7 linked regions of the Homo sapiens genome follow. The protein of the gene in region 1 purifies or fractionates together with the protein of each later gene. This does not show direct contact. Each region holds a gene or a part of one and is shown in the gene's direction. Other genes may lie near its edges. The genes, in order: CSPG5, TNFRSF10B, ALG11, SACM1L, CDS1, HS2ST1 and SCAMP1.

Region 1 (3,500 bases):
GGTAAGTTACTCAGTCTGCCCACCTGCCTGATAGACCCTTCTTCCCTGGACTGTGACAGCCAGCGGCCAGTGCGAGATTTCATTCATAATTCTGCGTGGAGGAACTCCATCTCCTTCACATCTGTCACCCAAAATCAGCTCCTCCTCGGTGAACACTGAGGAGAAAGGGTTTATTTAGCACCACACTGCATTGCTTTTTGAAAGCTAGTCAAGCCTGTGTCCAATCAGAAGTGCAAGGAACTTAAGAAAATCCTCTTTACCTCTCCTGAGTAGAATATGTGGGGAGAACTAGGGTTAACTTCCTCTACTGTGGATTTTAAGGGCCATACGGGATGTAGAATCTTATTTCAGCTCTTCTCTTGGCAAAGCAGTGACTGTTGTGTGCATGTGAGAATCAACATGTGTTTGCCTTTAAGCCCATGCCTTGAACACTCGGATGTGACCTTATACGCTATGAGAAAATTACTCCTATTACTAAGCAAAGTTAGAAAACCTTTTGGAAGTGTCACAGGAGTCACAAAAGGGAGATTGGAGTTCAGCTTCCTTGGGACCCCAGAGACAATTTATGCAGAACTGCCCCCACTTCCCTTTCAACCTGTTGCCCCATTAATCCCCCTCCCCTTGACCTGAGACTCCCTCTAGAGAATGTGACTGAAGGACTTTCCCTGGGTCCTGGGAAAAGGACAAAACACCATCTGTTGCTCCTTTGCTGGGTAGACTCATGCAATGTACAGATGCCAGCAGCTCTCTGCAGCCTTTCAGCTAACCGCCGCGGGGCTGGTACGGCCTCTCCATTGTGCCTGTGCACTGAGGCGGGCTGCATCTACACACGTGATCACTCCAGAAAGACACAGTCCTGGACCCCTGGCTCCTCACGCCTACACCAAGGGGGTGGGTGAGCAGGGGTATCCAGGGGGCAGGAGATGGGACTGCTTCAATCACAGCAGCTGCTGATGAGGATGGGGGAGAGAAAGGAACAACAGCCAGGGCAGTGGAGAAGCAAGAGCTGAGGCCAGGTGCAGGACCCTATTCTAGGGCCTCTTCCTCTAGCCAGCCCTGTGTTTTTCACAGAGCATGGCCCTCTTGTTTCTCCACATGCCTTCTTTCTTTCCCAAGCCTGGTTACTGCTTTGATGGTGTGACATGTGCCTGGTGCACTGCAGATACTGCCATAATTTATTTATTCTAAAATATACCTTTTTTCCCCACATATTAACATCTCTGAAATTGGATTGTGTCTTACAATCACTGCCATCTTTTTTTTTTTTTTTAATTTAATTGAGACAGGGTCTCACTATGTTACCCAGGGTGGTCTTGAACTCCTGGGCTCAAGTGATCCTTCCACCTCAGCCTCCCAAATAACTGTGACTACAGGAATGCACCACTGTGCCCAGCCACTGGCATCTTATGATCACTGTTGGCCATATGGTAGTTATGATGTAGTTGTAATTCCCTGGCATGCACAAATGGGTTCCTAGCTGTTCATATTGTTGTCAGTCCCTTATCTAAAGTCTAAATGAACTACTTCAAGTATATAAGAAAAGCTCAGCTGGGCACGGTAACTCATGCCTCTAATCCCAGCACTTTGGGAGGCCGAGGCAGGTGGATCACGATGGGTGGATCACGAGGTCAGGAGTTCAAGACCAGCCTGGCCAAGATGGTGAAACCCCGTCTCTACTAAAAATACAAAAAATAGCTGGGCATGGTGGCAGCCACCTGTAATCCCAGCTACTCGGGAGGCTGAGCCAGATAATGCTTGAACCCAGTAGGTGGAGGTTGCGGTGAGCCGAGATTGTGCCACTACACTCCAGCCTGGCCAACAGAGCAAGACTCTGTCTCAAAAAAAAAAAAAGCTCTAGGTGATAAGAAAGTATTGGATGATGGTTTAAGTGGTGGAAGTGTTTTTATTTTTTCTTAATGGTACATCAAATAATGGTGCACCTTATTACAATCCATGGCATTTGGCTGGATGCTGTGACTCATGCCTGTAATCCCAAGACTTTGGGAGGCCAAAGCAGGAATACCACCTGAGCCCAAGGGTTCGAGTCCAGCCTGAGCAACATAGCAAGACCTCATCTTTACAAAAAAAAAAAAAAATTGTTTTAAGATAATCTGGAAGAGGGAAGGGAGAGCATTAGGACAAATAGCTAATGCACGTGGGGCTTAAAACCTAGATGACGGGTTGATAGGTGCAGCCAACTACCATGACACACATATACCTATATAACACACTGACATATTCTGCACTTATATCCCAGAACTTAAAGTAAAATAAAAAAAAAAAGATAATCCATGGCATTTGATGAAATACAGTATTTGACTGGGCGCAGTGGCTCACACCTGTAATCCTAACACTTTGGGAAGGCTGAGGCAAGCAGATTGCTTGAGCTCAGGGGTTCAAGATCAGCCTGGGCAACATGGTCAAACCCCATCTCTACAAAAAATACAAAAATTACCTGGGCATGGTGGCATGCACCTGTAGTCCCAGCTACTTGGGAGGCCGAGGTGGAAAGATCACTTGAGTCCAGGAGGTCAAGGCTGCAGTGAGCTGTGATTGTGCCACTGCACTCAAGCCTGGGCAACAGAGTGAGACCCTGTCTCAAAAAAAAAAAAAAAGAAAAGAATAGAAAAGCCTTTAAAAACCGATAACCAGCACCAGGTACAATTCTGTACTTATCAATAAAATTTAAAATAATTTTTTTAATAAAGAAAGAAATACAGTATTTGTTTTTTGTAGGGATTTTTTGTAATTTTTTTTTTTTTGAGATGGAGTCTCGCTCTGTCAGCCAGGCTGGAGTGCAGTGGCACGATCTTGGCTCCCTGCAACCTCCGCCTCCTGGGTTCAAACAATTCTCCTGCCTCAGCCTCCCAGGTAGCTGGGATTACAGGCGCCTGCCACCACGCCCAGCTAATTTTTGTATTTTTAGTAGAGACGGGGTTTCACCATGTTGGCCAAGCTAATCTGAAACTCCTGACCTCGAGTGATCTGCCCACCATAGCCTCCCAAAGTGCTAGGATTACAGGCGCGAGCCACCACGCCCAGCCGAAATACAGTATTTGATCCAGAAGCTGAGACATTGTCATGTTTTGCCGTGATTATTTCACTTACATGTTTCCTTCACTCTTCTCTCCTAACCAGCAAATTCCGGACCCCATCTGAGCTCCACAATGATAACTTCTCCCTCTCCACCATTGCCGAGGGCTCTCACCCAAATGTAAGGAAACTTTGCAACACTCCCCGTACCTCCTCCCCCCATGCCCGTGCCTTGGCTCACTATGATAACGTTATCTGTCAGGTAACTTGTTTTCTTCACATCTCTCCTCTTATGCATGCTTTGGCCCCTGGCCCATGTCTGATGTCTATTTCAGAATATGAAATCCCCAGAGAGCTCTGGAGGTCAGCCTAGGGCAACTGAGTTGGGCAGCAAAGGTGGGAATAAGCACTTGATGGTGTATCACTTATTTGACAAGCAGAATTTTCGATACAAAAGGTCTTTTTCT
Region 2 (3,500 bases), on another chromosome or scaffold:
AGAAAAACAGTAGAGGCCGGATGTGATGGCTCACGCCTATAATCCCAGCACTTTGCGAGGCCAAGACAGGAGGATTGCTTGAAGCCAGGAGTTTGAGACCAGCCTGGATATGGCAAAACCCTGTCTCTACAAAAAATATAAAAAGCAGCCTGGCCCGGGGGAGCACACCTGTGATCCCAGTTACTCGGGAGGCTGAGGTGGGAGGATCACTTGAGCCCCGGAGATGTAGGTTGCAGTGAGCCAAGATCACATCACTGCACTCCAGCCTGGGCAACAGAGTGAGACTCTGTCTCAAAGAAAGAAAGAAAAAGAAAAAAGAAAAACCATAGAGAAAATCCACAAAACCAACATTGATTCTTCAATACTATTAATTAAACTGACAGAATTCACTAGTGAATTCTAACAAGCTTTTAATGAAGAGCTAATACCACTACTTCTCAAACTCTTTCAAAAACTTGAAGAGAAGGGAACCTTTCTTGACTCTTTCTGTAAGGCCAGCATTGCTCTGATACCCAAGCAGATAAAGATATTACAAGAAAATAAAGCTATATCCCAGTATCCCTAACTGATGCAAAAATCTTCAACAAAATACTATCAGAGAGAATTCAACAGTACCTTAGATGGATTATACACCATGACCAAGTTGGATTTATTTCCGGAATGCAAGAATGTTTGAACAAATGAAAACTGAACAATGTAATACATTGCATTAATAGAATGAAGGGGGAAAAAGACACATGATCATCTGAGTTGATACAGGGAAAGCCTCTGATAAAATTCAAAGCCCTTTCATGATGAAAACACCCAGCAAACTAAGAATAGAAGAAAACTTCCACAACATCATAAAAGCCATGTAAGAAAACCCCACAGCTAACATCATACTCAGTGTTGAAAGACGGAAAGCTTTTCCTTTAAGATTAAGAACAACATAAGGATATCTACCCACCTTTGCCACTCAGCATAGTACTGGAAGTTCTAGCCAAAACAGGCAAGAAAAAGAAATAAGAGCATCTGGACTGTAAAGGAAAAAGTAAAATAATCTGTGTTTTCAGATGATATGATCTTACTGGTAAAAAATCCAAAAGATTTCACAAAAAATTAAACTGCCAAAAATAAAATAATATTAAATTTTTAAAATTTTGAAATTTATTGTTGTTCAGTAAAAGACAGTACAGATTGCAATCTGGGAGATTTCAAACCAAGTGGTAAGAAACTTGCCTTACAGCAGGTATAGTACAGGCTATAAAGGAGGATGTATTTTGACAATTTCATGATTGACTTATAAATTTATATTCTTTTTAAAGGCAATCAGAGCTGTTTAAGCTGATTTTTCTATAGCTGCTTGATTTAACTTCACTGAACCATATTATGTCATGATGAAGGTGTAAAACTTATATTTTGTGGGATTTTTTATGATTATAGCTAATGTTTCAGGGATATCAGGATGTCTTAAGTTTTGGCTACATGGTTATGGGTAATTGCCGTGGGGTATATCTAAACTGTGTTTTTAATTTTTATTTAGTAGTACTAAAATGAATTCATCAAAGAAGCGGAATACAAAATCAACTGGAAAAGTCAATTGCATTTCTATACACTACCAATGAACAATTCAAAAAAAGAAATTAGGAAAAAATCCATTTACAATAGTATCAAAAATAATAAAATAGGAGTAAACTCACCAAGGAGGTGGAAGACTAGTACAATGAAAACTATAAAACATTACTGAAAGTAATTAAAGAATACAAAAATAAATGGAAAGATATGCCATGATTATGAATTATAAGACTAATTATGTCAACATTTCCTAAAGTGATCTATACATTCAATGTAATCTCTATCAAAATCCCAAGGACATTTTTGCAGAAATGAAAAAATGTATCCTAAAATTCATATGGAATTTCTAGGGACCAGAATATCCAAAACAATCTTGAAAATGAATAAAAATGTAGTAGGATTCACACTTCCTGATTTTCAAAACTTCCTACAAAGCTGCAGTAATCAAAACAGGATGGTACTGACATAAAAGCAGATAAATCGATCAGTGGAATAGAATAGAGGAGCCAGAAATAAACACTCACATATATGGCCAAATTATTTTTCACAAGGATGCCAAGACTGTTGAATGGAGGAAAGGGCCGTCTTTTCAATGAAGGGGGCTAGGAGAACCGGATATCCACATTCAAAAGAATGAAGTGAACCTTAGCCTAACATTGTATTTAAAAAATAGCTAAAAACAAATAAAAGATGTAAATGTAAGTGCTAAAGCTATAGAACTCTTGAAAGAAAATATAGGATAAAAATTCTGTGACATTGGATTTGGCAATAATTTCTTGGATGTGACACCATGGACATAGGCAACAAAAGAAAAAATAAACATTTTGGACTTCTTGAAAATCAGTAACTCTTGTGAATCAAAAGATACTATTAACTGGATAAAAAGGCAAAACCCACAGAATGAGAGAAAATATTTTAAGTTATATATCTGATAAGGGCTTAATATCTAAAATATATAAAGAATTCCTACGATCTAACAAAACAAAAACAACCCAGTTAAAAATGGGCAACTGATTTTTATAAACATTTCTCCAAAGCAAATATACAAATGGTCAATAAGTATATGAAAAGATACTTTAATCACTAATCATTAGGGAACTGCTGGTCAAAACGACAGAGATACCATCCTATACCCATCAGGATGACTATTATAAAAAACACACACAGGCCGGGTGCGGTGGCTCATGCCTGTAATCCCCACACTTTGGGAGGCCAAGGCAGGCGGATCACGAGGTCAGGAGATTGAGACCATCCTGGCTAACATGGTGAGACCCCGTCTCCACTAAAAAAAAAATACAAAAAAATTAGCCCGGCGTGGTGGCAGGCGCCTGTAGTCCCAGCTACTTGGGAGGATGAGGCAGGAGAATGGCGTGAACCCAGGAGGCGGAGCTTGCAGTGAGCTGAGATGGCACCACTGCACTCCAGCCTGGGCGACAGAACGAGACTCTGTCTCAAAAAACAAAAACAACACACACACACAATAAGCATTAGCAAATTTGTAGAGAAGTTGGAACCCTCGTGCCCTGTTAATGGGAATGTAAAATGGTGCAGCCACTATGGAAAACAGTATGATAGTTCCTCAAAAGTAAAAACAGGATTAGCAGATGATCCATCATTCCCACTTCTAGGTATACGTCCAAAAGAATTGAAAGCATGGTTTCAAACAGATATTTGTACACCCACGTTTATAGCAGTATTATTCACAATAGCCAAAAAGTGGAAGAAACTCAAGTTGGACAGATCAATAGATAATGTGGTATATTCATACAATGGAGTATTACTCAGCCTTGAAAAGGAAGGAAATACTGGCACATGCTACACAATGGATGAACATTAAAGACATGCTCAGTAAAATGCCATTCATAAAAGGACAAATGAAATAGGATTCCACTTGAGGTACCTAATGTAGTCAAATTCATAAAAACCAACAGTAGAATGTTGGATGC
Region 3 (3,500 bases), on another chromosome or scaffold:
GTCCTCTTATTTCAGGTTTTTTTATTCATTATTCTTCCCTGGGCTCATTGTATGTGGAACTTTATGTGTGTGTTTGGTCATTGTCCTTTGGGGAATCAGACTGCTGCTACAGAGAAAGAAAAAATTAGTGTCAACTAGCAAAAATGGGAAAAATCAAATGGTGATTGCATTTTTTCATCCATACTGCAATGCTGGTGGAGGAGGAGAAAGAGTTTTATGGTGTGCTTTAAGAGCCCTGCAGAAAAAGTAGGTATCCATCTTTCTTAGCTAATTTGCTATATTGTTCCATTTCTTAAAAATTATTATCCAGAAATTCATCTTTTTTTTTTTTTTTTTTTTTTTGAGACAGAGTCTTACTCTGTCACCCAGGCTGGAGTGCAGTGGCACGATGTCGGCTCACTGCAAGCTCCGCCTCCCAGGTTCATGCCATTCTCCTGCCTCGGCCTCCCGAGTAGCTGGGACTACAGGTGCCCGCCACCACGTCCGGCTAATTTTTTGTATTTTTAGTAGAGACAGGGTTTCACCATGTTAGCCAGGATGGTCTCGATCTGCTGACCTTGTGATCCGCCCACCTCGGCCTTCCAAAGTGTTGGTATTACAGGTGTGAGCCACCGTGCCCGGCCTCATCTTTCTAAAGTACCTAAAGTAAAAAATGAATTCCTTTTTAAACTGTTCTTCAATAAGAAAATATTTCTTTCATGTGCCCACATACCTTATATGATCTTATTTGACTTTAGTTACTATGATAAAGAAATAGACAAACCCAGGCATGGTGGCTCACACCAGTAATCCCAGTACTTTGTGAAGCCGTGGCAGGTGAATCACTTGAGCCCAAGAGTTTGAGACCAGCCTGGGCACCATGGCGAAACCCTGTCTCTACAAAAAATTATCTGGGCATGGTGATGCGCACCAGCTTCTCCAGAGGCTGAGGTGGAAAGATTGACTGAGCCTGGGAAGTCAAAGCTACAGTGAGCCATGATTGTGCACTGACTGCACTCCAGCCTGGGTGACAGAGTGAGAACCCGTCTCAAGGGAAAACAAAAAAGAAAGAAAGAAATGGACAGTGGATGGGGAAAACATCTGCCCTTTTATGGCATAAATTAATGGGAATAACTGGTCCCCTTGGGAGAGCATATACAGAAGAGATTAAGTAATTGACAGAAATATACCAAGTATGTCAGAGCACTTTAAGCCTGAATACTTTCAGGCAGTTGTGGCACACAGGAATAATCTTTATGAAAGTATCTATTTGACTCAAATTTTTATATCATTACCAGCTGGATAGTCTCAACTTACCATGTTAGAAGGAATATGGTGTTATACATCTTTTAATATTTGAGGCTTCGTCATCACCACCCCCCATACCCCCAAAATATTTATGATTCTCTTTTAGAAAGGAAAAAGCATAGTAGGTTCCATTATTTTATCATATGAGGAAAACTGTTACTCTTCATGGTTACCCTACTTCCTGGTACACACCCTTCATTCAGTGCCAAGGCCTTCACACAGAATTACCTCAGCTATACTTTTCTGTAATCCTGGCCCATCCTAGCTTCCAGGCCCTACCCCTGTATTTGCTCTGCCATCTTCTGTAACTGCCTAAATACAAAGAATTCTCATAATTCCCAACTCCGTGATGCTTTTCCTACTCTCGTTGATAATACTTTTTTCTTCTCTAACCAGATTATCTACCTCTTGATGGCGGTGGTAAAGTTTCATGATATCTGTACACATAGTCCCCAGCAGCCTCTATTACTCCTAACCCATCTACAAGGAGAAAAAAACCAAATCATTAATATGACTTGGAAGATACTTTTTCATCTTGCTCTGGCCACATTGCGTTTCTCATCCCTCCCCATTCCTTCACAGGTACTTTACTCTGACATGCAGAACAAGGAGCAGCTCCCTGAACACATCATGCTCTCTCTCGAGTCCTTCCCTTTCTATATAGTGTTCTTTTCTTCTGAAATAACCTTTTTCTCCCCAGTTAATTTCTACAAGCCTTTCCTAACTCAACACATACTACAGTGCACTTTTCATTCGACCTAGCAGTATTTATTGGGGACCTGCTATGTGTCAGGCACTGTTCTGGGGGTTGAGATTAAGAGAACAAGATCGATCAAGTCCTTCTCTCCTGGACGTTTGATTTTAGTTGAGAGAGACAAGATAATAAGCAAAGAAGAAAAATATCAAATAGTGAGACGTGCTATATAAAAAGTTAAAATAGGGTAATATAGGAGTGACTTGATACTTTAGATAGAGTGATCAGGGAAATATCTGATAACAATCAAAATCTGAATGACAAAAACAGCTGCATTCACTGCGTGATGATTGTATGTTAGGTATTGTTTGAAGTGCTTTACATGTGTTAGCTCACTTGATCCTCAGAACAGCCTTTTGCAGTTGTTACCATTATCCTCATTTGACAAAGAAGAAAACTGGGGCACTAGAGCCCATGTTCTGAACCACATGCTAAACTGCCTGCCTTATGAAAAGACAGTGAAAATGAGAAAAGAGAATTCAGAGTAGAGAGAACAACCACTGCAAGTCCCCTAAGGCTGGTTGGAGCTTGGCGTGTTAAAAAAAAAGAATGCCAGTTTGGCTGCACCCTGGAGGGCAAAGGAGAGCATGGGAAGGGAGGTGACAGAGGGAGGCAGGTTCCAGATCACACAGGACTTGAGTGAGCAGGGAAATTAGTTTAGATTTTATTCTAAGTGCTATAGTAAACCAGTTTTGGGGTTACTGTTCTGTGACATGGTTTAGGGGCTGCCATGTTTGGTCTCCATCATACTGTTGCAATTAGATGGCAGCTGGGGCTGGAGGCATCTGAAGCCTTTTTCACTCACATTCTGGTTCTTGGGCTGGGATAACTGGACCTGCTGGGGGCTGTCGGGCATCTCTCTCACTGAGGAGCTTCTTCATGTGACTTGGTTGTGCTTGCATACAACATAGCAATCTCGGGCTGGTTGGACTCCGTACATGACAGCTGTCTTCTCCTAGCATGAGCATTCCAGGAGACAGGAAGTAGGAGCTGCCAGTCCCTTAGAGTCTATGTTGGGAAACTGGCACAATGTCACTTTTGCCATATTCTGTTGGTCAAAATAGTCACAGAGCCAGGTGTTATTCCAGGGGAGGGGACTTAGATGCCACCTCTCAGTGAGAAAAGTATCAAAGAATTTGTGGCCCGTCCGGGCACAGTGGCTCACACCTGTAATCCCAGCACTTCAGGAGGCCAAGTCTGGCAGATCACTTGAGGCCAGGAGTTTGAGACCAGCCTGGTTAACATGGCAAAACCCCTTCTCTACTTAAAAAATACAAAAATTAGCTGGGCATGGTGGCACACATCTGTAATCCCAGCTTCTCAGGAGGCTGAGGCACGAAAATCACTTGAACCCGAGAGGTGGAGGCTACAATAAGCCAAGATCACGCCACTGTACTCCCGCCTGGGCGACAGACAGAGCGAGACCCTGTCTTAAAAAAAGAAAGAAAAAACAAATGGA
Region 4 (2,257 bases), 1.8 Mb from region 1:
GTATTTCTTTTTGGATGGTAATGATTTGCATACTTGTTTGTTTTTTTCACTGGATCAGCAACTTTTTGAAGGTAAAGACTGTGTCTTACTCATTGTTTTATCTCCTTTGTCCAGGATATAGTGAGCCCTCAGTAAATGTTTGCTGAATTAAGGACTCACTCCACCACCACCACTAATTCTGTCACCTTTTTGATAGGGAGGCTCAGTTACCTGTTCATCTCTGTATTCCCCTCAGTGCTCAGCCCTGTAGACAGTCGTGACATAGTTTTAACTAAATGCTGAAATGTTGAGTAGGGGGAAAGAAAGAGCCATCTTATTATTATTATAGTTAGCAAAATTTTTCTGTAAAGAGCCAGGTAGTAAATATTTTTGTCTTTATGGATGGCTGTACATTCTTTGTTTTTGTGTTTATAACCATTTAAAAATGTAAAAAGCATTCTTACCTTACAATACAAAAACAGGTTGAAGCACAGGTATTGCCTGGGACATGACTGCAGGTTTTAGGGCAGGAAGGAAGAGGCAGCATGTGCCGGTTCCTCAGCGGCCAGCCCTGCTTTCATTTCCTCTCTGGGTCCTCTGCCTTCTTTCCTGAAAACACTGCCCAGCGCATGCCATTTTTGGGGAGCCACTCTACTGTTAAATTAGTTCATTTTGTTGTTGTGACTATACCCACATTTACTTAAAGAACCTCTGGAGAGGCAGGAAAGTCAAGACCAAGAACTCTGCTTGAATGAAACGGATGATTCCTTTAGGGAGTGTCCAGCAGAGTGGCTAACAAGGAACTGCCCTTCTTCTTTTGTCCAAGAAGAATTTTAAACTTCAGAGCCATGAAAATGAGCAATTATGCAAATTCGAGTATATTTTGAGTAAAAAGAGATTGGATGCTGTGGATGGTAACTTCTCATGTCAGTTTATTCTTATGATAAACTTTGTGATGTTTGGTTATGGTAATATCTGATTTCTAGCTCCTGCTGTGGTTTTCAAAGAGAATAGAAAACAAATGTAGCATGATCTCTGAGGGCTTGTTAGGAAGGAGTCTGGATGCTAGTTTCTTCCGTGGTGTGCTCACTGGCTGTCATTCCCTGTATGTATTTCTCCTTCTGCAAATGAGGCCAGTAGTGTTGCAGAGAGAGAAGCTATTCTCTAGGTTCAGCTATTCAAGGAGTAAAACAAAGTAGATCTTTGCCCACCGGCTTGCTGCTAACCTTTATGAACTTCGGACTTTGGAAAATGCATATCAGCAGAGTTGGGTTAAATATGTCATTAAAATAGGTTATTGGCTGGGTGCTGTGGTGTGTGCCTATAGTCCCAGCTACTCAGGAGGCTGAAGTGGGAGGATCACTTGAGCCCAGGAGTTCTGGTCTGTAGTGTGTTATGCTGATCGGATGTCCGCACTAAGTTCAGCATCAATATGGTGACCTCTTTGAGCAGGAGATCACCAGGTTGCCTAAGGAATGGTGAACTAGTACAGGTTGGAAACAGCAGGACAAAACTTTCATGCTGATCAGTAGTGGAATGGTGCTTGTGAATAGCCACTGCACTCTAGCCTGGGCAACACAGCAAGACCCCATCTCTAAAGAAAATGTTATTGACTTTTGTTTTATATATTTGTGTATATGCAAAAAATACTCTACAAAATATACATAACTTCAGAAAAGTTATGTATAACTTATGTTTGGTATTTATGAATATTCTATTAATTTTTTGTGCAGGTGTTTTGACAATAGCTCATATCTGTTATAGAACTATGAATTAAACTTAATAGTTATTTGTATTATTAAAATATACTAAAAGTGATCATTATTATTTGTATAATATAATATGAAATCATTTAGTCCAGTGGTTCTCAAAGTGTAGCCTCTTGATCGGTAGCATCAGCATCACCTGGGTACTAGGAACTTGCTAGAATGCAGATTCCTGGGGCCCAACAGTTGATGCTTTATCAAGCCCTGCAGAAGATTCTGGTACTAGCCAGGGTTTGAGAACCACTGGTTTAAACCTTAATTAAGAGGTTCTTATATTTTTCCTGTGAATGTGCTAGTAAACTTTAATGTTGCCAAAATGTGCTAAACAGCTGAAAACTGGGTCTGATATCAACAAACGACTTATTTAGCTTTTTGTTTCTTAATATCAACAGGTGACACTTGGACAGAAACACTGGCCTATGTGCTCTTCTGGGGAGTTGCAAGCATTGGAACATTTTTTATCATTCTTTACAATGGCAAAGATTTTGTCGATGCTCCCAGACTGGTCCAGA
Region 5 (3,500 bases), on another chromosome or scaffold:
TTATGTTCTGGGTAGGCTGCAGTGCAATCCAAAGGGTTATTCTGATGGTTCATTATGAATCATAACCTTTCCGAATATCTGCCACTTACTCAGGTGAACTTTTTTCTGCTGACTTTTTTTTTTTTTTTTAAAAACAGGTTCCTTGTTCCAATATCAAGTGTTATCTGCAATGACATAACTGCTTACCTTTTTGGATTTTTTTTTGGGAGAACTCCATTAATTAAGGTAATGGAAAAATTTTATAAGCAAGCCACTATGTAACCTTAAAGATTAGCCACTGGAGAACATTTCCAACAACTGTGCTGTTGTGCATTTTTTATTTTTGAGGTGCTTTGATTTTCCTTAGCTGCATGGTGCAGAAGCAGCAAACCATATTTCTCAGTACTTCCATCTGGGTTCTTCATCAGCTCTTCTGTTGGCTCCTCAGGAAGGGCATGACTCCATCAGTCTGCCTGCCTGCCTGCCTGCCTGCCTGCCTGCCTGCCTGCCTGCCTGCCTGCCTTCCTTCCTTCCTTCCTTCCTTCCTTCCTTCCTTCCTTCCTTCCTTCCTTCCTTCCTTCCTTCCCTCCTTCCCTCCCTCCCTCCCTCCCTCCCTTTTCATCTTCATTTTATCTTTATGTGGTTTCTTTTCTTTCCTTTTTTTTTTTGAAGATGGGGTCTTGCTTTGCCACCCAGGCTGGAGTACAGTGGTGCTACCATGGCTCACTGCAGCTTCCACCTCCCAGGCTCTAGCAATCTTCCCACCTCAGCCTCCCGAGTAGCTGGGGCTTCAGGTGCATGCCACCACACCCGGCTAATTTTTGTATTTTTGGTAGAGACAGAGTCTTGCCATGTTGTTCAGGCTTGTCCCAAACTCCTAGGCTCAAGCAGTCTGCCCATTTCAGCCTCCCAAAGTACTGGGATTAAAGGCGTGAGCCACCGCCCCTGGGCTCTGTGGTTTTTTCTCTCGGCCATTGGTGCAGTTCTTCTTTATCCTCCTTTCCAGCAAGCCTATACACAAGCCTTTTCCTTGACTCTCCTCTCCCTTCAACCTGTCGCCTTACCTGTCCCCTCCTTTACCAAACTTTCTCAAAGAAGAGATTATATAATACACCTTCACATCCTCATATCCATTTGTGTGACTTTTCATATCCAAACTCATACCAAAAGAAGATTTTGGGGCCCTACAATAAAATACTAATAAAATACAAGTAATAATGAAAGGGAAAGGAAAATACACATGAGTAGACCATGTTGTTTTGCTATAGAATTGGTTCTATTTATGGGCAATGGTAAAGAAGGAAATGAACTAAATTACATAGTTCTCATTTGGGAGAAGAAATAAACTAATTCTTCATGGAAATCAAATCATTTTCTAGAACTGATTTCTTCTAAAAGAGCTCTTCTTTATTTTTGTTTAGTTTTTATTCGTTTTTGGAGACAAAGTCTCGCCCTGTCACCCAGTCTGTAGTGCAGTGGCGCAATCTGGGTTCACTGCAACCTCCGCCTCCTGGGTTCAAGTGATTCTCCTGCCTCAGCCTCCCAAGTATCTGGGATTACAGGCGGCTGCCACCATGCCTGGTTAATTTTAGTATTTTTAGTAGAGACAGGGTTTCACCATGTTGGCCAGGCTGGTCTAGAACTCCTGACCTCGAATGATCTACCTACCTCGGCCTCTGAAAGTGCTGGGATTACAGGCGTGAGCCACCACACCCGGCCTAAAAGAGCTTTTCATGTTGGAGTTTCAGATAAGATTCACACATTTCACATTATTGGGCAAAGTTTTTAATAATGTTCTCACAGACATATTATTACCTGGCTGTTTTGATATTGTTATATGAATGCAGTTTTGGAAGGACTGAGACAATTGTTCAGATATAAAGCCTTCTGTTTGTTCAGAGTGGTATGAGGGTAGTTTAGTATTACCAGAGGAATTTGTGGACTGCCTGTTCTTCCAAAAACCTCTGTAAACTCTTCCCCTCTTGGGGAGGAGCTCACAGAGAGCACCTGCTGAAAGCATCAGCACACAGAGAGTGTTGGGCTGAGCTGTATAAGGATACTGGTAAGCAAGCTGTATATTTTTAAAACGTTTCTAAAGCTGCTCCAGAGTTTCTAAAGCTTGAATACATGATTTACGTATTCAAGAGTTCTACCCAGACTGAGAAGTTTTCGGCTTGGGAAGCTGTATTAGTTCATTCTCACACTGCTATAAAGAAATGCCAGAGCTTTAATTGGCTTATGGTTCTGCAAGCTGTACAGGAAGCATGGCTGGGGAGGCCTCAGGAAACTTATGATCTTGGCGGAAGGGGAAGCAGGCACATCTTATATGGTCAGAGCAGGAGGAAGAGGGAGAGTGAGGAGGTGCCACAGACTTTTCAACAACCAGATATCATGAGAACTCATGGGACAGCAATAGGGGGATGGTGCTTAACCATTAGAAACCCCCTCCCTGACCCAGTCACTTCCCACCAGGCCCCACCTCCGACACTGAGGATTACAAGTGGACGTGACATTTGGGTGGAGACACAGATCCAAACCATATCAGAAGCCTTCAAAAAGGCTGTTATAGCTGTGGAAGAATATTAGCAACTGATTTTGAACACAGCCTTCTAGTGAATTTATCAGGCTGGATTAATTGTATAATATACTTAGATAATTGAACAGTTAACCCCTAAATCGATATGATATGCATCAATTTAATTTGATAAGCTATCTTTACAATAATCAGCAGGCACTTTTGAATTTGAGTCTGCTCCTACTTCATGGCAGTGATAGTGAATTACCCTAGGAGAAGGTGTGTCTGTCCCTTCTCTGTGGCAGAATTGTTATCAGATTTGTCAAGAAACCATTTCTGCCAACTGTTTTGGTTTGGGGCTTTATGAATATCAGGACAAGAAGTCTATGAAGAGCTCCTATAGGTTAACCCATAACCCATTTTAATACTTCAGAGACTTTATTCTGATATTTGGTTTCTGTCCCTCATTAATGACCTGATGACCAAATCCTCCCACACATCACAGTCTTTATCTCCCCTGAGCAACAACTTTCACTTTTTGCTCCTGAATCTTTTCCTCCTGCCCCAACACCACTAACTTCTAGATTTTTTTCCAGATTTCTTTCCATGAATGGTCCATTGACTGGGCAGCAATAGCCTGAATCCAACACAAACAATATCTCTTCTTTGAAGTGCAGCATGTTCCTTTCTTCTTGGAAATGGACATAGATTGTGAAAAAAGAGAGGATATGTCAATACTTGAGCAAATACAGTATCTGGGGCTCTGGAGTATTTTGCCATATCAGAAGGAAGTCTGTGTGTATATAGCATATTAGGAATATGTGAAAATTATATGTGCTAAAATGTCCATGTTTTGTTGTACTGATTCTATTTTTGGCCAATAGCAGGTCAATACTGACTGTGTGTACTTGGAATGAATACGTCTCATTCTTATTCCAAGAACTTACACCAACTATTATCAGGTTTTATATTAGCATAAGAGTCATGGGACAGTTATTTTAGTATA
Region 6 (3,500 bases), on another chromosome or scaffold:
TGCAACCCAGGTATGTATGATTCCAAATCAAGTGCTCCTTTAATTATGTCCGGCTGCTTAAGACTTTATATTGACATTACGCTGAGATTTAGGTATTTGAATAGAGTTTTAAAATTGTAATATCAGTGTTTAATTGCATTTATTGCTAAGAATGAATATCATTCAGAGAAAATTGAATTTCTGATACAAAGGAATTGGTTTAATGTAACGTCTGCCCCTTGTTTAGATTCATGTAATGAACATAATTATGTTACCCAATGAAACAACTGAATTAGATAGCTTATTTTTACTATAGGAAAGAAAAATCTAGCTGTTTTCCATACGTGCAAAATCACAATGTTAAAAAAGCATTTTTATTTTGGCATAAAAAACCTATTAAACATTTTGTCCTTAAAAGTAGTTATTATCATTTTCATTGTAGAAGATTCCAAAGGATAGTATTGTCTGATAGTGGCTTTAATATACCTTGATTTGAGAGTACAGTATTTTGATGGTGAGACTTCTAATAGAGCAATAGATGTATTCAAAACTGAGGTGTACTCATTGACTACTTGGGAAATTCACTAATTAGGAATTCCTAAAAAAAAAAATTCAGTAATACAGCTTTTTATTTTTATTTTTTAAAAAACAAATATGGCATTGTAGTCCACATATTACAATGCGGCTTGCTTTTTTTGCCTTGAATGTTATACACATCTTTCCAGGTCAGTACATATAGATGTGACTTACTCATTCTATTAATAATAGCTGTATAATATTCCAAAGTATGCATGTATCATAAATTATTAAGCCATTATTCTAGTAACGGACATTCAGTTTGTCCCCCATCTGTCGTGTGTGTGCGTGTGTATATATACATATATATATAATTTTTTTGAGTGTTTCTTTTCTTTCTTGGTATTATAAACAATTATAGGAAACATCCTTATGTGTCCGTTTAACTCATGTTGATGTCATTTTGTGCTAGGATGAATTCTGTATGTGAGATTGCTGGGACAAAGAATATACATATTTTATAATTTAACAGATTTAAAAATCTACTTTTCAACATTTTTTTGTTTTTCAAAAGATGTAGTAATCTACACTGCCAGCACACATTCATTAGCACTAGAAGATAATCAGCTTTTAATTTTTGCCAGTGTGAAGCTGTGAAATGATATATTCAATTAATTTACCTTCTAATTTCTAGGTAGGTTGAACATCTTTACATGTTTATTGCCCTTTTATTTGTTACTTTTTTCTATTTTTCTATTGGGTGGTTTACTTTTTTTTTTAAATATTAGAATTAGTAATCCTTTATCTATCCTATGTCTTTTTTAAATTTTTTTTATTTTTATTTATTTATTTATTTATTTATTTTTTTGAGATGAGCCTTGCTGTCACCCAGGCTGGAGTGCAGTGGCACGATTTCGGCTCACTCCTGCCTCAGCCTCCCAAGTAGCGGGGATTGCAGGTACGTGCCACCACGCCCAGGTAATTTTTGTATTTTTAGTAGAGACAGGGTTTCACCATGTTGGCCAGGCTGGTCTTGAACTCCTGACCTCAAGTGATCTGCCCCCCTCTGCCTTCCAAAATGCTGGGATTACAGGCATGAGCCACTGCACCCGGCCTCTTATTTGTTTTTGTCCAAGTTTGCCATTTGTTTCTTGACTTTATGGTGTGTTTTGCTCATATAGAAGTTTTAAAATACACACAGTTAAATCTATCAATTTAGGGAAGTCGTTTTCATATTTTGCTTAGGAAGACTTACCCAGAGCCAGGATTGTGTACATTTTCTGTATTTTATTATAGTATTTTATAGTTTATTACATTTGGCTCTTTAAACCATTTGTATGTTTACAGAGATTTATCATGATTTTCTCAGTAAATCATTTTTTCCAACTGTATGTTAACATTCCTTCTTTTAATCACATACTAAGTTTTCATATGTTCTTGGATCAATTTTGGATGCTATTTTCCATTAATCAGAGATTCTTTAAACCTCGGGGACCCATAAATAGGCTTCAAGGTATCAGTGAATTCCCTGAAATTATATACATAACTTTCATCAGATTTGCAAAGGAGTATGTGATTCCTTTAATGGCAAGGATCACAGATTTATAGTAGATGTTTCATATTTAGTGGACTTTTTTTTGTTTTTAGTAACATAACGTGCAGATTGTGAGTTAAATTTAGGAGATAAGCTTATTACCTGTGAAAAAGAGAAGTTTTTCAACTTCAAATGAAGTTAATACTTCATTGTATTAAAATGTAGACTTAATTTTCTAGTGAGAAATGGAAAAGGACAGGGAATCCAAATGAAAACTATTTAACTGTGACTCGTTACTATAAAATGTCAGAATTTGTGGCTGGTAAAAAGTAGTTCTTCCCGAATTTCAAGAGCGCACTTGTTGCTAATATTGACTGGTCGAACAGTGCAGTGAAATATTTTCTCACATAAGTGATAGAACTATGTGCTTGGTAACTTTATTTTCTATAGGGTTTTAGCATTGTAAATAATATTTGTTGACTGTATTCTTACATCTCTATATGGATTTATGAGCACATTAGGAATAATCTTTTACATGGGGAAAATAATTGAGAATGGATTATGTAATCATCCATTGGTGAGAATTAATGTTAGTCATTATGTTCTTAAAACTCTACTAGACTAAACAACTAATTCCAGGGCCAAGGTTGAGACTGCTTTTTGGAATTTGGTAGTTTTTACAAGTAAGTTCCTGAAACCATGCAGCAATACCTGTAAGATGTTCCAGAGAATGCTAGATTTCCTCACTTCTGAAATCATTTGGAAAACCTCATAGTAGCTACTGTTTTGAGGACTTTGGGTTAATAGGAATACAGTTATTCTAGAATTGGTAATTGGTGCCTCACTTAGTCTTGAATAGGATGTCTAGTGCCATGGAGTAGTCACCTGAAATAGTTGATCTCAATTAAGATAATTCCAGGATGTCTGTCCACCACTCTGGTAGGCCTTCTAATAGCTTTTTGGCACTTAGAGAAATTGAAATAATAATGAATGTTCAAAGATTGCTCTCCAGAAGACCATTTTTGAAGGATGTACTTATAGATGAACTTCATAATCATGGTTCACTATAGCCTAGTTATTTTTAAGATCTACCCACCTACCAGTACCTGTACTTACGTATTCTGCCTTTCTGCCTGTTAACAATAGATGGTAACTGTCAGTGCTCCTGTTCGGTCATTTGTGCACCTGATTCTGTTGCCTCACTTACCTAAAGACATGGTTCCCGAAGCTTTCCCTCATTCTCCTGTCACAATGTATTCTTGAAAATTGCTAAGAGAGTGGATTTTAAGTGTTTTCACCATACCAAAAAAAAAAGTATGTGAGGTAATGCATGTTGTCTTAATTAGCTTGATTTAGCCATCCATGATATATACATGTTTTAAAACATGTTGTACATGATAAATATATACAGTTTTGTCAATTACAAATAAAAAAAAACTATCTTGGTAAATGTTCCAGGTGAACGTGAAAA
Region 7 (3,500 bases), on another chromosome or scaffold:
GCATGAATTCCTGCTCATTTTTCCTCATGTTAATGTTTTTAAAAAGCACATATTGAGCTGCTGTTATATTTCATCAACTTAAGATGCCATCCTTTGTAAGATGCACCATTATCTTATTTACCACTGTCTCACTTATCTGTTGCTATGTAACAATCCCAAAATATAATGGCTTAAAATAACAATTATTTGCTCACGATTCTGTTAATTGCGCTAGACTTAGCTGGGCAGGTTTTTTCTTTTTTTTAATGTTCTTTTCTGGAGTCACTAAAGTGGCTTCAGTCACCTGGTTTATGGTTTCAGATATCCTTACTCAAGTGCCTGCTGGTTACCTGGAGATGTCAGTGGGCACAGCAATTAGCTGTCTTTCATGTAGCCTCTCTACTAGTAATAAATGGGCTTTGTGCATAGTAGCAGCAGTGCTCCCAGAGGGCAAGAGCTGAATCTACAAGGCTTCTTGAATCATATGCTACTTCTGCTGTATTCTGTTGGTCAAAACAAGGCACAAGTTCAGCCTAGATTTTAAAAGGAGTGGCAAGCAATAGGCTCCACTTCTTGACTGGAGACAGACCTATGATCTGAAGATACACCTAGTATAAAATGGCGAGGTAGTCGTAGGATAACTTCACTAGACACTCCCATTCAAATAGGGAAAGAGTGGGAGGCGTGTAGCACCTGCTGATGCATAGCAGTTCTGAAATCTAGCCAGGCACGTGTTGTTAGGGTCCCCTACATTGGGGACAATGAATGTTTCTTGATTAGGGCCCAGTTCTGCTACCTCGTATTGGTTCCTTCACCTGTTATTTTCTTCTGCTTTTGGCTCCACCCTCTGAGAGGTCCTTTATTTATTTTTTTCTATAAGAATGAGCCCTTTTGGCAGCTGAGTAGCATTTTTGGCCTGCTTCTTGCCCATTGAAAATTGGGAGCCCAGAAGTTTCTATTAATTTTGAACTGTTTCTTTAGTCCAGGCTGTCACAACTCTCTTAACAGTTTCTTTTTAATCTTACCAGAGTTCAAACCATGCCTTAAAAACCACATTTGTCATTCTTTTTGAGACAATCTTCATTTAGGGTGAAGTGTCCGTTGCCATGGTCGGTATTCTTCAGATGTTTAGAAAACTTTTGTCTAGGTTGAGCATCTCATATGGCCAGGGGAAGGCTGCTGCCATAGGAGGCTGCTGTGCCACGTGACAAAACTAAGATTTGAACACAGTTTTATTTTGGCCCTGTAGCTTTACAGTCATATGAGATGATGGTGATTATGAAAATTTCGAAAGTAAACTGTTCTTGTGCTGATATTACCAAAAGTTTTTTTTGGACTATGATTAATATTTAATAGTGATAAATGCAGATCCAAATAATTTATTGGTTATTTCCTTAATATGAACCACCAGTGTGATATAGTTGCTGAAAAATATATATTGGCTTAGTGAAATTAGTGATCAGTTCCTTAAAATTAATAATCCTATAGTATTCTGTTCTGGTCTAATAGCTGGGTATTCTTCTCAATTGCAAGTGCATATTTAAAGAGTGGTTTGAAAATACTAGGATATGCCCAAAGAGGACAGTCAGAATGGTCATGGGACTGGAATCAAGTTCTAGGAAGAACAATTTAAGTTTCAATTACTCAGTGGATTTAGTCTACAGAGGGCTAAAGGGAAATAGGAGAGCTCCCATCAGATACTTAAAGTGTTCTTAGGTAAGTGAATAAACTTGTTATTTGTTGCTTTAGAAAAAGAATCTAAGGTTAACTGGCAAAGTTTACTTGAAGGTAAAGGTAAATTTTGTCCAAACAGACTTTTAAAAATCTGCTACCATGGCCTGACAATGCTCTTTTGGTAGGGCATTCTCCAGCACTTGCAGAAATTCAAGCAGAAGTTGGATAACCTACAGAGATGCCTAATTTCAATATTGTAATGTCTCAGGGAATAGGGAGACCCAAGGAGAGGGACAGAGAATGGGAACAACTGGTTGGTGGAATAGTCAGGACACACAATTTTTTTTTTTTTTTTGAGACAGGGTCTCTCTCTGTCTCCAAGGCTGGAGTGCAGTGGCGTGATCTCGGCTCACTGCAACCTCCACCACGCAGGTTCAAGCGATTTTCCTGCCTTAGCCTCCCGAGTAGCTGGGACTATAGGCGTGCACCGCCACACCTGGTTACTTTTTGTATTTTTAGTAGAGACGGGGTTTCACCATGTTGGCCAGGCTGGTCTCCAACTCCTGACCTCAGGTGATCTGCCTGCCTTGGCCTCCCAAAGTGCTGGGATTACAAGCGTGAGTCATCGTGCCCGGCCAGGACACATAACATTTATCAAGTAAGTTTGCAGTGTTATGGGCATGGTTTGTGGCACCCCAAGACAATTACAGTAGTAACATCAAGTATCACTGATCACAGATCACCATAGCAGACATAATGATAATGAAAAAGTTTGCAATATTGCGAATACTACCGTAGTGTGACGCTAGAGATGTGAAGTGAGCACATGCTGTTGGGAAAATGGTGCTGCGAGACTTGCTTGATGCAGGGTTGCCACAAACCTTCAATTTATTTTTTTAAAAAAGGCAATATCTGTGAAGTACAGTGAAACTAGGTATTCCTGCATTTTCTCTGTTCTAATATATCGACCATATTGGATATTGGAATTAAGTATGATCAGTTCAGCTAGAGAGGATGCTTTATGTTCAGAGACCAGCTATGCTCTGAGCCTCAGCTTCTGCTGAGGGAGCAGCCCTCATGGTAGCTTACACATTTGTGATCATGTCCTCTAGGGTGTGACTTTTGCCACCCTGGCCTCAGCTGACTGATCTTAACAAAGGTACTTGTCCAAAGCAGTGGAATAGCAGTTATCTCACTAGGCTTTTGAAGGCCATTTTCAAGAATTCCTGTCCTTCATTAGAGGTGTTTTTTAACTAGAAGGGATGTGCCATGTCATGAAGAATTTCAATCTCTGTGAAACCTGGCGTTCTTCTTTCTGTATATATCTTTAAAATATTCTCCTGCTCCCAGCATTTGGGGTGACCTGAGTGAGTCTGTCTGTTTCAACCAGAATTGCTAAACCGTAAGTGTAAAGTAACATTTTCTTGCCAAAAGGGTGATAGAGTTAAGCCTGTATTTAGACCTACAGTTTTTGGTGGTGTAGTGGAGTAATATACTTGCAAATATTGTAAGATGTTTTTAAATCACAAGGGAGAATTTTCCAACTTTCAGTGGGTGTGGGATATAAAAGGTGACATGGAGTTTGGTTAGATTTAACCTTGTAACAAGTCTCTGAGTTGTTCCTACTGAGGCAGTCTGTAATGTCCTGCAGCGTTTGACTTCATATGTGTAGACTGGTGTGGAAAACCCTGTTCTCCTTTCTGTGCAGAAGGCTTGCAGATCTATACCCAGAGAGCAATCCAGTAATCCCCTTCTCCTTGGCATTTGGCTTTGGGTGCTTTTCAGAATTAGTAATGTTTCTTTATCCATTGCTGGACACCTAAGTTGTTTCTGTTTTTTGTCTATTA

Evidence for each region.
Region 2: the proteins of CSPG5 (region 1) and TNFRSF10B purify together in Homo sapiens (affinity purification with mass spectrometry; one large-scale study listed by BioGRID and IntAct). This does not show direct contact.
Region 3: the proteins of CSPG5 (region 1) and ALG11 purify together in Homo sapiens (affinity purification with mass spectrometry; one large-scale study listed by BioGRID and IntAct). This does not show direct contact.
Region 4: the proteins of CSPG5 (region 1) and SACM1L purify together in Homo sapiens (affinity purification with mass spectrometry; one large-scale study listed by BioGRID and IntAct). This does not show direct contact.
Region 5: the proteins of CSPG5 (region 1) and CDS1 purify together in Homo sapiens (affinity purification with mass spectrometry; one large-scale study listed by BioGRID and IntAct). This does not show direct contact.
Region 6: the proteins of CSPG5 (region 1) and HS2ST1 purify together in Homo sapiens (affinity purification with mass spectrometry; one large-scale study listed by BioGRID and IntAct). This does not show direct contact.
Region 7: the proteins of CSPG5 (region 1) and SCAMP1 purify together in Homo sapiens (affinity purification with mass spectrometry; one large-scale study listed by BioGRID and IntAct). This does not show direct contact.

The regions. Positions count from the first base shown.
Region 1 is NC_000003.12:47,568,866-47,572,365, reverse strand, and holds part of CSPG5 (chondroitin sulfate proteoglycan 5 isoform 1 precursor), read left to right. Parts: intron 1-3,138; coding exon 3,139-3,214; coding exon of another isoform or gene 3,215-3,295; intron 3,296-3,500. UniProt on the Homo sapiens protein: May function as a growth and differentiation factor involved in neuritogenesis. May induce ERBB3 activation.
Region 2 is NC_000008.11:23,059,032-23,062,531, reverse strand, and holds part of TNFRSF10B (tumor necrosis factor receptor superfamily member 10B isoform 1 precursor), read left to right. Parts: intron 1-3,500. UniProt on the Homo sapiens protein: Receptor for the cytotoxic ligand TNFSF10/TRAIL. The adapter molecule FADD recruits caspase-8 to the activated receptor.
Region 3 is NC_000013.11:52,018,898-52,022,397, forward strand, and holds part of ALG11 (GDP-Man:Man(3)GlcNAc(2)-PP-Dol alpha-1,2-mannosyltransferase), read left to right. Parts: intron 1-15; coding exon 16-246; intron 247-3,500. UniProt on the Homo sapiens protein: GDP-Man:Man(3)GlcNAc(2)-PP-Dol alpha-1,2-mannosyltransferase that operates in the biosynthetic pathway of dolichol-linked oligosaccharides, the glycan precursors employed in protein asparagine (N)-glycosylation.
Region 4 is NC_000003.12:45,741,396-45,743,652, forward strand, and holds part of SACM1L (phosphatidylinositol-3-phosphatase SAC1), read left to right. Parts: intron 1-2,137; coding exon 2,138-2,257.
Region 5 is NC_000004.12:84,635,127-84,638,626, forward strand, and holds part of CDS1 (phosphatidate cytidylyltransferase 1), read left to right. Parts: intron 1-137; coding exon 138-225; intron 226-3,500. UniProt on the Homo sapiens protein: Catalyzes the conversion of phosphatidic acid (PA) to CDP-diacylglycerol (CDP-DAG), an essential intermediate in the synthesis of phosphatidylglycerol, cardiolipin and phosphatidylinositol.
Region 6 is NC_000001.11:86,917,635-86,921,134, forward strand, and holds part of HS2ST1 (heparan sulfate 2-O-sulfotransferase 1), read left to right. Parts: intron 1-3,500. UniProt on the Homo sapiens protein: Catalyzes the transfer of a sulfo group from 3'-phospho-5'-adenylyl sulfate (PAPS) to the 2-OH position of iduronic acid (IdoA) or glucuronic acid (GlcA) within the heparan sulfate (HS) chain and participates in HS biosynthesis.
Region 7 is NC_000005.10:78,367,117-78,370,616, forward strand, and holds part of SCAMP1 (secretory carrier-associated membrane protein 1), read left to right. Parts: intron 1-3,500. UniProt on the Homo sapiens protein: Functions in post-Golgi recycling pathways. Acts as a recycling carrier to the cell surface.